Linked DNA regions of Homo sapiens: region 2 is linked to region 1. Evidence: fine-mapped expression QTL. A gene starts in region 1. The other region holds a variant in brackets. All regions are shown on one strand. Distances are between the middles of the regions. Region 1 holds the start of SCAMP5 (secretory carrier membrane protein 5). Region 2 has its middle 27 kb from the start of C15orf39.

Region 1 (8,327 bases):
GTGCTCCACGGAATCATCTCTCAAATGGACCATTTATATGAACATCCTTATCTCAGTGTCTGCCTCTGGGGATACCCAGCCTAAAGATAGTGGTTCTTTTATTTCTTAGATCTATCCATCCAATTTCCTTGGGCAGATCACTTTACCTCTCTGAATTTCACTTGGCTCATCTATAGAATATGGATAGTATCACTTCTTTCTTTCTTTCTTTTTTTTTTTTTTTGAGACCGAGTCTCGCTCTGTCGCCCAGGCTGGAGTGCAGTGGCGGGATCTCGGCTCACTGCAAGCTCCGCCTCCTGGGTTCATGCCATTCTCCTGCCTCAGCCTCCCAGCAGCTGGGACTACAGGCACACGCTCTCATGCTCGGCTAATTTTTTGTATTTTCAGTAGAGACCGGGTTTCACCGTATTAGCCAGGATGGTCTCGATCTCTTGACCTTGTGATTCACCCGCCTTGGCCTCCCAAAGTGCTGGGATTAGAGGTGTGAGCCACTGCGCCCGGCCCAATAGCACTTATTTCTTAGGATGGTCATGCAGTTTAGCATTTCACTCAGACATTAAAAGTTCAGTAAATACTTCTATTTTTATTCGTTTACTGGCCTGTAACATAAATATTCTCCCAGAGACTCTTGGATGGACATGCCTCATTCAGGCATAGCTAGGCAGGGAAAGATAAGCAGCCTGGAGCTGGCCCTGTGGGACATTGATTGATTGGGTTCCTGTTCCCAGTTACTTGCTCCCTCTGCAATGGGATTAAATGTCCCCACCATTTGTCATGTGACTTATCTGGCATCCTGTATGGGTAGCATACCTCCCTGACCCCCATGAATTAATTTTGGGCTTACCCATGTGACTTGCTTTGAGTAATGGCATATGAGCAGATGTGACATTCTCCACATCTGCAAAGAAGCTTGAAATGTGTTACTGCATGGTTTGGCACAGGCTCTCTCACCCCTGCCCTCCACTACAACAAAGACATGTCTCCAGTGCCTGCCACGCAGTTTGAGCTAGCACCTTTAAATACTTTATTTATTTATTTTTTTGAGAGGAAGTCTTGGTCTGTCGCCTAGGCTGGAGTGCAGTGGCGTCATCTAGGCTCACTGCAACCTCCACCTCCTGGGTTCAAGGGATTCTTGTGCCTCAGCCTCCTGAGTAGCTGGGATTACAGGTGCACACCACCATGGCTGGCTATTTCTGTATTTTTAGCAGAGATGAAGTTTCACCATGTTGGCCAGGCTGGTCTCGAACTCCTGACCTCAAGTGATTCGCCTGCCTTGGCCTCCCAAAGTGCTGGGATTATAGGCGTGACCCACCGTGCCTGGCTTAAATACTTTATTTTTAATTTTTAAAAATTGTTTTATCCATCTATTTACAGATCATTAAATACTTACTGTGTACCAGGCAGTCCCATATGTTACATGTGTCTGCATGTATTAATTCATTTCATCCTTGCAGGAACCCTAAGACACGGGTCCCATTATCACCATCCTTATTTTACATATGTGGAAAACTAAGGTTCAGTGAGGATTAGTACCTTCTCAAATTCACACTGCAGGGAAGGGGCAAGGTCTGCCTTCTAGGTTGATATTCTTAACCACTGCTGTATGCTTCTTCTCATGGTAGGTAACCAGCAAATGCCTATTAAGTAAACGTTTGTTTAAGTGATCATTGTTCCCTTCCATTTACCTGAATAGGAAAGGTACAATCTACTGGGACAAAGGTGGGCTTCTGACTTTGGACCTGCTCACTCTTCCTACGTTAGTTGTTTATCAAATAGGAGACCCTTCTGATTCTTCTGAGTGGAGAAAAATTGTCCGTGGTCATCAGACGGGAACCCCAATATTTCCCTTGTAGGACCTACATGAACCACAAGATATCTCCTATAAATTCCATGTGGTTTCCAGACATCTTCCTTGTGGATCCCAGTGTGGACCTCAGATCTCTCTCCTAAAGGCCTATGTGAACCCCTATATCTTTCCTGAGGCCCACATGGACTCCCAACATTTTCCCTGTAGCAGCCACACTTGATAACTTCGACAGGTTCCCAGTTGTCATCTCATTGGCTGCTCTCCACAGCTCTGTAAATCAGCCTTGGCTTGCATTATAGCAGGGAGAGACAGCATGTGGGTCAACCAGGGACAGGACTGACACAGAACCCAGTTGTCCTGCCCCGAAGCCCAGGACCCTTCCTTCCTGGTTGGCCTGGTGGCAGGATGATGCTTCCTGCTCAGCCCTTCCCAGGCACCGAGGCTCTCTCCCTCCTTTTCCCCTCTGCCACACTAGTTCTTGTCTGCCTTTTTTCACTGCCACCCCCTTTTCATGCCAGCTGTGGGAGTGAGGCCCCACTCCTGGCAGGATGGAGCCAGACAATGGGCCCTTATTCTAGGCAAAGAATCCCTGCAGTGTCTCCCACCCACTGAGGCCCCCTTCCAGGCCTAGGATGGTGTGGGTGGGGGGTGGAGGGTGGGTGTATGGTGTAGGGGAAGGAGCAATTGGCTGGCAGGACAGACAGTGGCCCTGGCCCTGCCTGTAGAGATCCCACGGAGGTTTACTATGTAAACACCAATCACAATAAAATCCTGTCTTCACTCCCAGCCCATCTCTCCAAGTGGGTCTCTCTCAACCCTCCAAAGCTCTGGGTTTTTAAACATTTACCCTTGCCTCTACTCTCTCTTGGTATTCATCTCTGCATATCACTGTCTCTTTCATTCCTTTTTCTGAGTCTCTTTCTTTTTCTAAGCCTCTCCTCTCTCTCTCTCTCTCTCTCTGCTCCTTTGCGTAATTTGTCTCTATTTCTTGCCTCTTTCTTGCTTCATTATGCTCCCTTACCTATCTTATCTTTCCATGTCTTTTTTCTCTCCAGGCCTTGAGCTCTCATCTCAGTCTCTCTCTCCGTGTGTCTCTGTCTCTGTTTGCAGCTCTTCTTTCTCGTCCTCCTATGTCGTCTTTCCGTGGATCTGTGTCCTTGCCTCTCTGAATATCATCTCCGATCTTCCGTCCTCTGTTCTCTCTTTCCCCCTGCGCCTGCAGATCTGAAGGACCTTCCGCAGTCACCACACTCTCCTGCTTTCAGCTCTTTCTCACTCCTTTCTGGCACGTCCCAGAGGCTCCTGGCATAGGTATAGGAGGTTATTCTCCCCAGTTTACAGATATGGAAGCTGAGGCTCTGGCTGCTGGTGCCAGGCTCCCATCTCTGGGTCTCTTCCTTCCACCTACACGCCAGGCTCTTGTCCCTGAGGTGCCCGTCAACCACCTGATCCGGCCGGGGCCCGGGAACTAGCACCTCGGACAGCTCCTGGAAGATGCCGGGGCGGCCGGGTCGTCCTTCTCGCGAGCTCAGGAGGAGCAGCCTTAGGAGCAGAGCGGAAGTCTCGCGAGAGTGACTGCTGCAGGCAGTGGCGGCGCGGGCGCGCGCAGAGACGGCCTCGGGCGCGCGCGCGCGCGCGCGCGCTCCCCGCCCCCAGCCCCGGAGCGGCTCGCGGCCGGCTCCGCGCCGCATCGCTCGGGTGCAGCGCAGCTCAGCGCAGCGCTGCGGCCTTTCGGCAGCCGAACGGCCGCGGCAGGTGAGTCTGGGCATGAAGGCTGGGAGGAGAGCTTTGAAGGGAAGCTGGGCGCGGGGCGAGAGGTGTGGGGGTCGCTGGCTGCAGCTTTGTTCCTCCTACACTTCACCTTTGGATGCAGGAAGAAGGCCGAACTGCTGGAGAGGTGGGAGTGGAGGTGACCTTTACTGTTTGGGGCTGGGGGAGAGCGCTCAGGGCGCACCCAGGCCCCCCGAGCCCCCCAAGCCCCCCCATTCCCATCTGTGGCTCCCGCAGAGGGAACTGGGCCTTTGGGTGACGTCAGACCCTGGATCTGGAGCCTGAGCTTTGGGCCCTCCATCCCCCCCGCCAGCCCCACCTGGCGTTCCCTGGAAACCGGCCTTCTGGAGATGGCGTGCGCAGCCGGGGATGGGGGCGACTGGAAGGGGGTGCCCGTGGCTTCCTTTGGGCCTTTCCTTCCAACTAGCGCCTGCAGGTGGACCCGGGTTGACTTCCCTCACCTCCCTCGGGCGGCCGACCTTTGGATGGCGGACCTCAGCCGCCCCAGGGTTGCGAGGCGACGGGCGCGCTGGCCCAGGCCACCAGGCGGGCTCCATCAGGGCTTTGGGTGGTGAGTTGGGGGCGCCGGATTTGGCTCATTTCAACGCTGGCCGGAGGTCACGAGGATGGAGGTGAGGTGTTTGTGAACCGATCCTTGTCCTCCGCCTCGGGGAGCTCCTGGTCTGTGGGTTGGGGGAACCAAGTAGAGACTCGGACTGAGCATTCACTGTCACAGGCGGCTTAAACAAGTAATGTCCCAGCTTCCCGATGGGGAGATCAGTGAGGGCCTGGCAGACTTTCCCAGGGACACAGAGAGAAAGGGAGGCGACAGCTAGCGAATAGGAGACTTCCAGAGGTGATGGGATTTGGGTGGGAGGAGAGGCAAGAGAGGGCATTCCAGGAGAATGTATGGGCAAAGGCACAGGGATGAAAACGAGCACAGCTGTTGGGGGCTGAGCCTGGGAGCTCAGCCATGTGACTGCCCATGGGGTGGTGGAGTCTGGAGAAATTTGCAACCTGTCCCCTACATGTTCTGCCTCACGGAGCAGGGCTCTGAAAGAGGGAGATGGTTCTTGCAGGGGCATGATTGGCAGAGAGATTTTGTTTGGGGCTACACAGGTCTTGCTAACTTAGGTTTGTTCTGGGCTTGGTGAGCCTTAGGGCAAAGTCTCTAGAGCTGAGAGGGGGCTGTCTCTGGTGAATGGGCCCCTGAAAGAGGGTCTTAGGTTTAGCAAACCCCTTGGAGAGTTAGTGGGGTCCCAGGAGGGGAGTTCTAGAGAGAGACCTTGGGCTCTGTGGCTGTTTCTTTAACCGTTTCCTGAGTGGCCACCTCCAAGCAAGTTCCCCAAGTCACCTCCCCTCTCTGGGCATCTCTTTCTAGCACCTTTCTCTAGAGATGAAATAATAGGACTAAGTAGTGACCTCCCTTGAGGATGCTCCTTGTTCTAGTTTAGAGCATCCCCCCTTTCTTCTCCCTCTTCCTTTTCCTTTCCTCCCCTATCCCTCTGCCTCCCTGTCCCTATCCCCACCCCTTGCCCCCCACAGCATTTCCTTTACAGGCTGCACTTCCTTCCCTGCTGCCAGCCAGGAGTTTCGGAAGGTTTCCTGGAGGAAGTGTGATACAGCAGGTTTGACAGCAGCTTTGGGCTTAATCTGATTGGGGGAGGGCGTTAATTGCCTCCCTCCCACCCATTGGGAAAGTGTCCAAGTCTTAAGCAAGTATATGGATTGACTGTGCTCTGTGCTGGGTCCCTCCTGGAAACTCCATCCAGGAGGGAGTGAGGAGATTATGGGAGAAGACGTGAACACTTAGTGCCCAATGACTGACTCAAAATGTATGCAGCGGGATGCAGAGCAGCGATTTTTGGAAAGGCTTCCCAGAAGGGGTGGGATGTGAGAAGGTAGCAGGACTTAGAGGAGCTGATAGTGCTGCCAATTTAGGGGCACTGGAAGCAGAGGGGGCGGCTAGAGATGATCTCCTGCATGAGGCTGGGAGTGTAGGAGGCAGGTCAACCTGTGAGCAGCCAAAGGTGGTGGGAGGGAGGTTTGTAGCTGACTGGCACAAAGCCTTGAATGCCAGGCAAAGATCTGTAGGAGGCTACTGAATAGTCATCAGTAGGACAGGGACAGCATGGCCAGGAGACTGCTGTTTTCTGAGGATTATTCATAGTTCTGGGATTTCAGGGCAGAAGATGGGGCTAGGAGTGGGATGAGGGGATTGGAGGTAGAGCAGGAGGGGGAAACTTCCATCTTAGCAGGTTGGCTCTGGGCAGCAAAAAGGAATCACCATTTCTGTGCCAGGGATGAGGGGCCCATACTGGTGAGCAGGGAGCCCTGGAGTTAGCCCCAGGACTCTGGCCTGATCTGAAGCCAGGCTTGACCCTCGTCTGCTGCCAGAGGCCTCAGTCTCCCCACTGTGGGGGCTTCTGTCCTAGCTTCACAATAAGGAATGGAATACATTATAGTTAGGGTTTCATGAACAAAATTCAGGTAGTAACTGCTATCTTATTGATAATTAAGGTGTTTCCCTAGGCCTACATCTTTGGAGGGATATGTAGCCCTTATCCCCATTATAAAAGATTATCAGTTGAGCAGATTGCTAATTCTTCTGTTTTGTAGTCTAAGAACTTTGGTTTGGCCGGCGCGGTGGCTCATGCCTGTAATCCCAGCACTTGGGGAGGCCGAGGCGGGTGGATCACCTGAGGTCAGGAGTTCGAGACCAGCCTGGCCAACATGGTGAAACCGTGTCTCTAGTAAAAATACAAAAATTAGCCAGGCATGGTGGTGCACGCCTGTAATCCCAGTTACTAGGGAAGCTGAGGCAGGAGAATAGTTCGAACTTGGGTGGAGGAGGTTGTAGTTAGCTGAGATCGTGCCACTGCACTCCAGCCTGGGCAACAGAGTGAAACTCCATCTCAAAAAAAAAAAAAAAAAGAACTTTGGTTTGCAGAGGCCAGTGATTGCTGTCTTCCCCTCCAACCCCCCACCCCCCATTTCAAAGGCTTCCCAGAAACAAGGGCAGAGAAGCCTGGAGCCTTCCATTTCTGTGACCCTAGTCTTTTACCACCCTCTCAAGCCCCAGATTCTCTCTGCCCTAACCTTTATATACAAACAAGGCAGCTTTGCCCTCTGCTCTGGTTTCTGCTCTGAATTATTCATACTTTGCTGCACTGACTTCTCTGGAACTGTAAGCAGACTTTTGGGAGATTGTCTGGGACCAGGGACAGGGGTTAGGCTGGAGCCCGGTTAGGGAGAAGACTCCTCCTTTGAGGCCCCTATGTTCTAGTTGTTTTCTCCTCTCCCTCTGCTTCCTTGTTTTCCTGGAGGTCTTTAGTGCTGGACCACAGTCTCCCACTCCATGTCCCATTGTCTCAGGGGAGGTAGTGCCTCTTTCAGTCACCATTTTAACCAACTACATCTGAATGTGGTCCTCATTGGCATGTGGCCACCTCTGAAATCTTAAACTCTAGTATTTCTCTCTGACCACAGTCTAACTAATGCTTTATGTGCTCTGACCTCAAGGAGACCTCTAGTTCTCAGACACCTCCATTTTCTCCATCTCATGAATTGCCTCTTCCGTGTTCTTTCTGAACTCCATGCCCTCAACCACTTTGCCACTTTGCCTGTGTGTCACCCGAGCTGCCAGGAAGGGTCTCCAGTCTCAGCCATCCCTTCATCACTTATAGAAACCCCTCTCCTCATTCCCATCAGTTCCCCTTTCTATTCCATGGGAGGAGTATTCCAAACTGGACTACTCTCCCCAGGCCCTTTGCTCATGTAGAGGGTGGTTGGGGTGTGTGTGGGGGAGGTGGAACCACCCCCATGTTTTCCCGAGGCGGAGCTTGCAGTGAGCCGAGATCGCACCACTGCCCTCCAGCCTGGGCGACAGAGCGAGACTCCATCTCAAAACAAAAACAAAAACAAAAACAAACCAAACAAAAACAAAAATAAAAAAACACAAAAGTTAGCCAGGCATGGTGGTGCGCACCTGTAGTCCCAGCTACTCGGGAGGCTGAGGCAGGGGAATTGCTTGAACCCAGGAGACGGAGGTTGCAGTGGGCCGAGATCGCGCCACTGCACTCCAGCCTGCTGACAGAGAGAGACGCTGTCTCAAAAATAAATAAATAAAATAAAACACTTCCTGATTGCCATATCAACTTGTCACCTGACTGCTTCATGGCCATGGATATTGTTGACCCAGTCGACCAGTCATTAAAAAGATTGAGATAGATCTGTATTCATTAACATGAAAAACTTTCACGAGATATTGTTGAGTGGAAAAAAACAGGTTATAAAACAGGATGTGTGGAATGATCTCATTTTTGTCATATATGATTCTATATACGTTAAAAATGAAAGCCAACAAAATCCACCAAACCTAAAGATCAGACTGTTAAAGGGGTGGCATCTGAGAAAGTGGATTTTGGGAAGACTTTTCTACTTTATGCACTTAGATTTTTTTTTTAATTGCATATATTTTTACAGATAGCTAAAAAGCAACATATTAATTAACTAATTAGTTTAGAGATGAGGTCTCACTATGTTGTCCAGGCTGTAGTGCAGTGACTATTCACAGGTGCAATCATAGCTCATTGTAGCATCCAACTCCTGGGCTCACAATCCTCCCACCTCAGCCTCCTGAGTAGCTGGGACTACAGGCACATGCCACCGGGCTAGGCATATTTAAAAAACCTTTAAGGCCATTTTTTTTTTTGAGAGGGAGTCTTGTTCTGTCCCCCAGGCTGGAGTG
Region 2 (8,327 bases), 180 kb after region 1:
CCTGGGTGAGACACAGCAGGTCGCTCAGCAGGCATGTCGCTCTGCATGGGGACTTGTCCAGAGGGATGCAGGGAACTGCACCTTGGAGCAGTCCAAGGAGAGAAAAAGGAGGGAGAACTTACCTTCCCAGTTCCTTCCCATCTCCTGTTTCTCATAGGTCAGGTTTCACCTGGCAGGTGCGGGGAGCTAACTCATCCATACTTTTGTGTTTCATCACCGAACTCCTCAGTAGCCAGTTTCATACCTTTTTTGATGTGGAATGTTATCCAGTTCTAAAAACGGAGGAGTGACCTGGCACTGGTCTTATGCCAATCAAGAGAAATGAAGCAGATTGCTGGGGGAATCTGAACAGGCACCCAGGGTTTGCATCTCCAGTTTTTGGGGCTCCAAAATTTTGGAGTTCCACAAATTACTCTGAGGCCAGTAGAGGTTGGTGTAATGAGTTCATCATGGGTTGACACACAGTTTCTCCATCTATGAAATGAGGGGGCTGGCTAAGGATGAGCTTCCTCCACATCGCCACCGTCCCTGCCCCCCACAGTTCTGTTTCCTGGGGAAGAAGGCCAGCAAAGGCCCAGCACAGTCACCTACTTTTCCCTACCATGTCGCCACAAACCACTCTCTCAACACAGCCCGCCAAGGCCCAAGAGTTCCATCCACATTTCCCAGTACCACATCCTGTGTACCAGAAAAAGCACACAGAAGTGAGTCAGACCTTCTCTCTACTATCTGATTGCTAATGATAATAATAGCCACCCTGTTTCCATCCTGTGGTATTGAGCGCCAGCTCTGTGTCCAACATCTACACATGAACATAAACACAGGCAACTTGTTTAATACTCAACTCAATCCTGAAGATATGCATCATGTTCCCATTTTACACATGGAGAAAGTGAGGCTCAGATACGCCCTGGGATTTGCCCAAAATCACTAAGGAGTACACAGGGCCAGGTTTAGACTCAAACAGCCTATGGTTTGAGTTTCTCTCTTATTTTTTTCTTTTTTTTTGAGACAGGGTCTCGCTCTGTTGCCCAGGCTGGAGTACAGTGGCATGGCCACGGCTCACTGCAACTTTGACCTCTCAGGTTCAAGTGATCCCCCAGCCTTAGCCTCCCCAGTAGCTAGGACTACAGGCATGTGCCACCATGGCCGGCTAATTAAAAAAAAAAAATGTTTGTAGAGAGGGGGGCTCTCACTATGTTGCTTAGGCTGGTCTTCAACTCCTGGGCTCAAACAATCTTTCCAGCTTTAGCCTCCCAAAGTGCTGGGATTACAGGCATGCGCCATGGCGCCCAGCCTATGGTTTGAATTTCTGTGGGGAAACCTATAGAAGAACATGCTGGAGAAGGCCCACTATTCCTTCACCATGTGGCTTTTATCAACATGCCATGGAGGTGGTTTGTGTCCACTGCACCTGCACACACTTCAGGACAAGGTTCCCCGGCTGCTTCCTGCCTGTATGTCTGTATGTTTCTGTGAGTGCTGACCTGCCCCAGTGAGGCTCCTGCCCTTCTTTCACAATGCAACACAGTCCTGAGAGCCATGGGCTGGGCCTGGGCTCCCAGCAGCGGGATTACCATCTGGACAGAGCTGGGGGTATGCAGAGTGGGGCTGCTTGCATCAACAGGCTGTGGGGGCGTCTCGTCCTCTGCCCACATTTGCAGCCCTCTTCCCTGGTGAGACACCCCTTCCAGCAGCTGGCCCAGAGCATCTGGCCACTCCTGAGAAATGGAAACTATACCTTCCTGGACTGGGGCCAGCGTGGTTTGAGAAGCGCCCCTTTCAAATTCCCTTTGTCAGGAAGTTGATGCCTGGGCCATCACTCATTCATGTCAAGGGAATGATTATTCTTGATACATGGAAATATTTCTTAAGCCAAAAAGCTGTTGTTCTAGATTTACTAAAACTAGGTCAATAATTTGGCTTCAATCCCCAGGACAAATATCAGTATGGAGAAAACTTTTACAGTTGTGGGTATTCTCTAGACCAACGAATGCAACCAATTATACATTGCACAGATGGGCAGTGAATTGAGTGTTTCAAAATGTTATCTTTCACCTGTTTAGAAACAAAAGGTCAATTTTTGGAAAGTATTTCTCAAAAAGAGAAAAGCGGCACCATGCAGATATAAAAATGGAAGCAATGGTGCAGATGGTGGATGATAAATTTCTGTAACAAAGGCTGTATTTTTTTGTTTGACAAGTTTTTGCCAAGTTGCGTGCATGCTTCCCCAAAGTAGGGGAGATTTCTGAGGAGGGAGGTGAGTCACCTGGCCTTTACTTCCCTCAAGGCACCCAGGTTTCTCTAATGTGGGGACTAAAAGACTAAAGTTCCTAAGGAATGATCCTGCTGGGCCACTCTTTTTTTTTTTTTTTTTGAGATGGAGTCTCACTCTGTCACCCAGGCTGGAGTGCCGTGGTGCAATCTCGGCTCACTGCAACCTCCGCCTCCCGGGTTCAAGCAATTCTCCTGCCTTAGCCTCCTGAGTAGCTGGAATTATAGGTGCATGCCATCACGCCTGGCTAATTTTTGTATTTTTAGTAGAGACAGGGTTTCACCATGTTAATCAGGCTGGTCTCGATCTCCTGACCTCAGCTGATTCACCCGCCTCGGCCTCCCAAAGTGCTGGGATTACAAGCATGTGCCACCATGCCCAGCCAACCTGCCCACCCATTCTTATCTCACTTGGATAACACATATAGTAAGGCCCCCTTCAGTGCAGCCCACAGACAGAGCCCTGCACTTGGAAGGGCCCAACCAAGCTTGGTTGAATGCACTAGGACCAAGCAGTACTTTGAAATTCTTCGTAATTTAACTTTGAATTTGTCTTTTTTTTTTTTTTTTTTTTGAGACAGAGTCTTGCTCTGTCACCCAGGCTGGAGTGCAGTGGCGCAATCTTGGCTCACTGCAACCTCTGCCTCCTGGGTTCAAATGATTATCCTGCCTCAGCCTCTGAGTAGCTGGAGCTGGGATTACAGGCACGTGCCACCATGCCCGGCTAATTTTTGTATTTTCAGTAGAAACGGGGTTTCACCATCTTGGCCAGGCTGGTCTTGAACTCCTGACCTCAGGTGATCCACCTGTCTCGGCCTCCCAGAGTGCTGGGATTACAAGTGTAAGCCATCATGCCCAGCCAAATTTGTCTTTTGTAAGTGAAGTCCAATGGGGTCATGTAGCACGTGCTGAGGGCTTGGAATCTTGGCCTGAAGCATGGTCATGCCTCCTGCCACCTCCATGCTTCCCTGGAATGAGTTCTTGGCTATCCACTCCCTCAACCTCTGGTGCCCCAGTGCCACCCAGCCCCCTTGTCACCCCTGCCCTGCAACACTGCCACCCTTTGCTCCCTTGAGGGCCTGGGTGGGGGTGGGTGCGCCAGGGCCAAGTACATGCACCCCACAGTGTCAGAGCGGACAGGTGGTGGCCGTCCTGTCCCAGGCTGGCAGCAATATGCCATGTTCAGTGGGTGGCTTAGGGAGGGTGAGCCTCTCTCCACTCCTATCCCAGTCCCTAGTGCCTCCTGGCTACGAGGTTGGGACATAGTTGGGACTGTGGGCCTTTAGGAAGGGAAGATGCCTGCCTCTACTTCCCAATAAGTCTGTCTGGTGGCTGCTGGAACGGGGAGCCTGGTAGTTACTAGGTTCCACATGTGCCACCTCCCCGATCTGTGAAGGTCCGCTCTTGCCCTGTGCGTGTCCCGAGCTGGAGGGAGTAAGAACATTAAGTGTAAATTACCAAAAAACGCAACACCATGACAGGTTGTGAGAGGCATCATGGAAAAAAGGGAAGACATTCCCCCATGCATTTTGAACAGGGAACCTGCAATTTCATTTTGTATTGGGCCTTGCAAATTATATAGCAAATCCCACAGGCAGTGCTGTGTTGTGGCCTGCCAGCTCTCACTAGGTCACAGTTCACTTTCTGTGATGTCATGTTGGTAGCTTTGAAATGGCCACGGTGGGCCGGGCGCGGTAGCTCACGTCTATAATTCCAGCACTTTGGGAGGCTGAGGCTGGTGGATCATCTGATGTCAGGAGTTCGAGACCAGCCTGGCCAATGTGGCGAACCCGTCTCTACTAAAATACGAAAATTAGCTGGGTGTGGTGGTGGACGCTTGTAGTCCCAGCTACTCAGCAGGCTGAGGCAGGAGAATAGCTTGAACCCAGGAGGTTGAGGTTGGAGTAAGCCAAGATCTTGCCATTGCACTCCGGCCTAGGCAACAAGAGCGAAACTTGTCTCAGAAAAAAAGAAAAAAAGAAATGGCCATGGTGAGTATTAACAGCACGGAAATAGGGCAAACACTGCAAAACAGAACTTTTATTTTATTTTATTTTATTTTAGATGTAGTCTCACTCTATTGCCCAGGCTGGAGTGCGGTGGTGTGATCTCAGCTCACTGCAACCTCTGCCTCTCAGATTCAAGTGATTCTCCTGTCTCAGCCTTTTGAGTAGCTAGGACTACAGGTGCGTGCCACCTTGAACACCCAGCTAATTTTTGTATTTTTAGTAGAGATGGGGTTTCACCATATTGATCAGACTAGTCTTGAACTCCTGACCTCAGGTGATCCACCTGCCTCGGCCTCCCAGAATGCTGGGATTATAGGCATGAGCCACTG[C/T]GCCTGGCCTAGAACTTTAAAAAAATGTATGTAGAGCTGGTTTTTAACATTTACCAGCATAGCACTGTATAGAGTACCCAATAAAAGTCGGAAACTTCTTATCCTTGTTAATTTAATTGGTTAAATAGGGCAGGCCCAAACTTCTAGGAAGACAGTGCAGAGGCATGGAAGGAAGGCTAAGGAAGAAAACAGCTTAGTAAGTGCCAGGCACTGGTCCAAACCATTTCACCACCTTTTCAGGAATGAGGAAATAAGCTCAGAAAAGTAGTGGGACTCAACCAAAACCACACATCAGGCCAGCTACTGAGCTAACATTCGGACCCAATGTCCTAGCTCTTCTCACAGCAAAAGGAGAGGTGTTCTTTTTAAAACTAGAGATAGGGTCTCACTATGTTGCCCAGGTTGTTCTCAAACTCCTGGGCTTAAGCAATCCTCCTATCTTGGGCTCCCAAAGTGCTGGGATTACAGGCATGAGCCACCATGCCCAGAGAGGTTCTTTAGAGTCACATGTCTCTCTCTCTCTCTTCCTTTCCTTTCTTTCTTTTTTTTTCTTTTTTTTTCTTTCTTTCTTTTTTTTTTTTTTTGAAACGGAGTCTCACTCTGTTGCCCAGGCTGGAGTGCAATGGCACAATCTCGGCTCACTGGCAACCTCCACCTCCCAGGTTCAAGCAATTCTCCTGCCTTGCCCTCCCAAGTAGCTGGGACTATGACTATAGGCACATGCCACCACGCCTGGCTAATTTTTGTATTTTTAGTAGAGATGGGGTTTCACCACGTTGGCCAGGCTGGTCTCGAACTCCTGACCTCAGGTGATCCACCTGCCTTAGCCTCCCAAAGTGCACAGGGCCTCGCACAGGGTTCTGAACTCCAGGAATAAACTGGGGCTCAGGAGTAGGCAGGAGGGGGGCTGGCGAAGGACCTAGAAGTTCCCACCCTGGGCTCTTGATCTCTTGCAGTAACTTCACAGCCTGAGGCAGAAGCCTAGATGAATGAGAAGCAGGACAGAATGTTCCAGCAGCCACCAACTAGAGCAGAGACACAAATATTTACTAAGCCTAGGGGCCTCCCCAACATGCCGGCAGAGTTGGAGGGAACAAGTGTATGAGGCCTCTCTCTGTAAGGGCAGGGAATACATGGCAGGGAGAAGCCCCATGGAGAGGTCTCCCCTGACTCCAGCCTATCCGTCACATTGGTATATGAGTCCCTCACACCCTCAAGTATGTAAAGCCAGTCACAAAGCACCTTCTCAGCCATGGGCAGCGTGGGGAGCTGATCTCCATCTTATAAATGAGGAAACTGAGGCCCACAGAGGGAAGATAACATACCCAAAGCCAGAGGGCTGGGAAATGCTAGAGTCTGCAGTGGAAGGCTGGACTGGAAATGCTGCCCCCAATACCAGTAGTCTCCAATCCTGCATCTGCCCACCACACCCCCTCCCCAGGAACTTCTCTTGACCCTGGCTGGCCTCCTCCCTGACTGACCCCCAGACCCTCTTCTTTGGTGAGATCTTTTGCACCCTTACTTCCTGCAGCTCCCGGGCTGTTCTCTTCCCAGGTTAACCTCCCCTTTCTTCTTTTTTTTGAGACAAGGTCTCACTCTGTCACCCAGACAGGAGTGCAGTGGCACGATCATGGCTCATTACAGCCTTGACCTCCAGGGCCCAAGCAATCCTCCCATGTCAGCCTCTCAGGTAGCTGGGACCACAGGCATGTGCCACATTTTTAATTTTTGGTAGAGATGGTGGTCTCACTATATTGCCCAAACTGGTCTGAAACAATCCCCTTCCCCAGCCTCCCAAAGTGCTGGGATTACAGGTGAGTGCTATCCCACCCAGCCCATCCCCTTTCTTCCTATTTCCCACCTCAGAGAAGCCTTCTCACCTCACACCTCTCTCTCCAAATCGTGCCCCTCCTCCCTCATCTAGCTGAGGCCTGGCCTCTTATCCAGGAAGCCCTCCTGGACTGCTCCCAGTTACAGGGCTCTTGGGCTCTCAAGATTGCATGAAGTATGTTCATATTGTACTGTCTATTTAAAAAAAAAAAAGCGCATGAGAGACTAGCACACGGGTTTAGGTCCTAGTTGCAGCTGTCGCCAACTTCCTAGGGTGACCTCAGGCTCCCCTGCTCTCTCTGAGCCTCAGCTCCCTCATCTGTAGGCAGCCTGCCTGCCTCACCAGGGAATGGAGAGTCTAGATGAGAAAACCCTGGCAGTGGGCACAGGTCACAGCTGTTGGGGTTTTTGCTGGCATCAGCATTGCACCCTCTAGATCTGTTCCCATCCATTACCATCTGGCCACACACTGCCTTGTTCTTGCTCTCCCCTAGGGGTGGGAGGCCTGTGTCTGGCTGGAGAGCCCAGTTCGAGAGGGTGCTGTGTGTGCAGGGAGCCCTGCTGTTCCCCACTGGCCCCAGTGAGCCAGGCCCTGGCTTGGGGCTGGAAAGAGCCCAGGACTGGGAATCGCTGCCCTAAGTGAGGAGCCCCAACCCCTAAGCAGTTCTGCCCTTCAGCCCTTCAGGGTGTTAACTTTGCCTAGCCAAGAGCAAACTCTCTTTCTCTGTGCCAGGAGTAGTAGAGCCCCTGGGAAATGCTGTTTTTGTCCCCTGAGGCAGACTTTTGGGGAGTCCAAAAAAGGGCTCCCCACGGTGCCGGCTATCACAGAACAGGAGACAGGAGCAGGAGACAGGCCGGGAAGATGCGGCGACTGGGGGACCGGATAGGAGGGCCCTTGTCCTGAGGCTGCGTAGGCATAGCAAGCTCCGGGATTTTACTTCGTTGGAATGTTCTTTTGAGCTACTTTGGGGGCCGTGACTGAGAGAGCTCGTGGGGGACTCAGGCCCTTTCAGAGTCACCCGTGTGGCTCGGCCACTGCGCCAGGTCTTGGAACATCTAAGGCAGAAACAGGACCAACACCCGCAAGCCTCCAACAGCCCCTGGGGCTCCGTCCAGCCGTTGGGGTGGAGGGGTTGGGGGGAGGTGCAGGGGCGGGCACTGTGGGGGGTGGGGCGGGGCCGGTGGCCGCGACTCCACCCCGCGCCCCTAGTCGAGTAAACAAGCCACGGGCGGCGCCTGGGGGCCGCTCCTGCAAGCCGGGGCGCTGGGTTACATCACGGTTCCCTGGAGACTCCCGCCCCAGCGGCCGGGTCCCTGAGGCCCGCGCCCGCCCGCCGCCTGTGTCCGAGAAGCAGAGAGCTGGCAAGGGCCCGCCAGGGCGGGAAGGCTCCCACGTTTTCTCCGGAGGCCCCTGGGACTTTGTTGCAATTGGGTTCAGCCCGGGCATGGGCTGAACGTGGACGCGCGGGAACCGCGCCTCGGTTTCCCCATCTGTGAAACCTGGAGGCTGTATTAGGATTCTGTGCCTCCTATTAGGATTCAGCTGGGGGAAGGAGAGCGGCAGCCAGGGCCAGGGCCAGGGCCAGTCCCAGGCAGGCTGTGACTGGAGCCGGGCTTTCTACGTTAGGGTTTTGGTGGGTACCCGCTCAGCCACGTGCCAGAATGCACCCTCCCTCTGAGGGGACATGGAGACCACTCGCTGGGCCAAGGCACAGCAAGGACGACCTTGTATCCTAGCATTCTCCTGTCCCCACTTGCTGCTGGACACGGACCCTCTAGGTAAAATTCAACAATAGTTCCTGCCAGCCACCCTCACGGCGGGTTTGTGCCAGTGCTTTGGGAAAGATGTTGGGTTGCCCACTTAGGCGGGAGGGAGATTTCTGCT

Evidence for each region. PIP is the estimated chance that this variant, and not a neighbour inherited with it, causes the effect. A credible set is the group of variants that fine-mapping cannot tell apart.
Region 2: its variant is the best candidate, but not a certain one, in a credible set for the expression of SCAMP5 in whole blood (INTERVAL, PIP 0.61).

Annotation. Positions count from the first base shown.
Region 1 is chr15:74,992,112-75,000,438 of GRCh38, forward strand. It overlaps SCAMP5 (secretory carrier membrane protein 5), which reads left to right and starts at 3,452. Exons shown (of 7, transcript NM_138967.4): 1 at 3,452-3,562.
Region 2 is chr15:75,170,956-75,179,282 of GRCh38, forward strand. No RefSeq gene overlaps it. Among named protein-coding and RNA genes, the nearest start is that of C15orf39, 27 kb to the right of the region's middle. RefSeq lists enhancers at 6,462-7,021, 6,578-6,677. The variant C/T (reference allele first, on the strand shown) is at 4,613.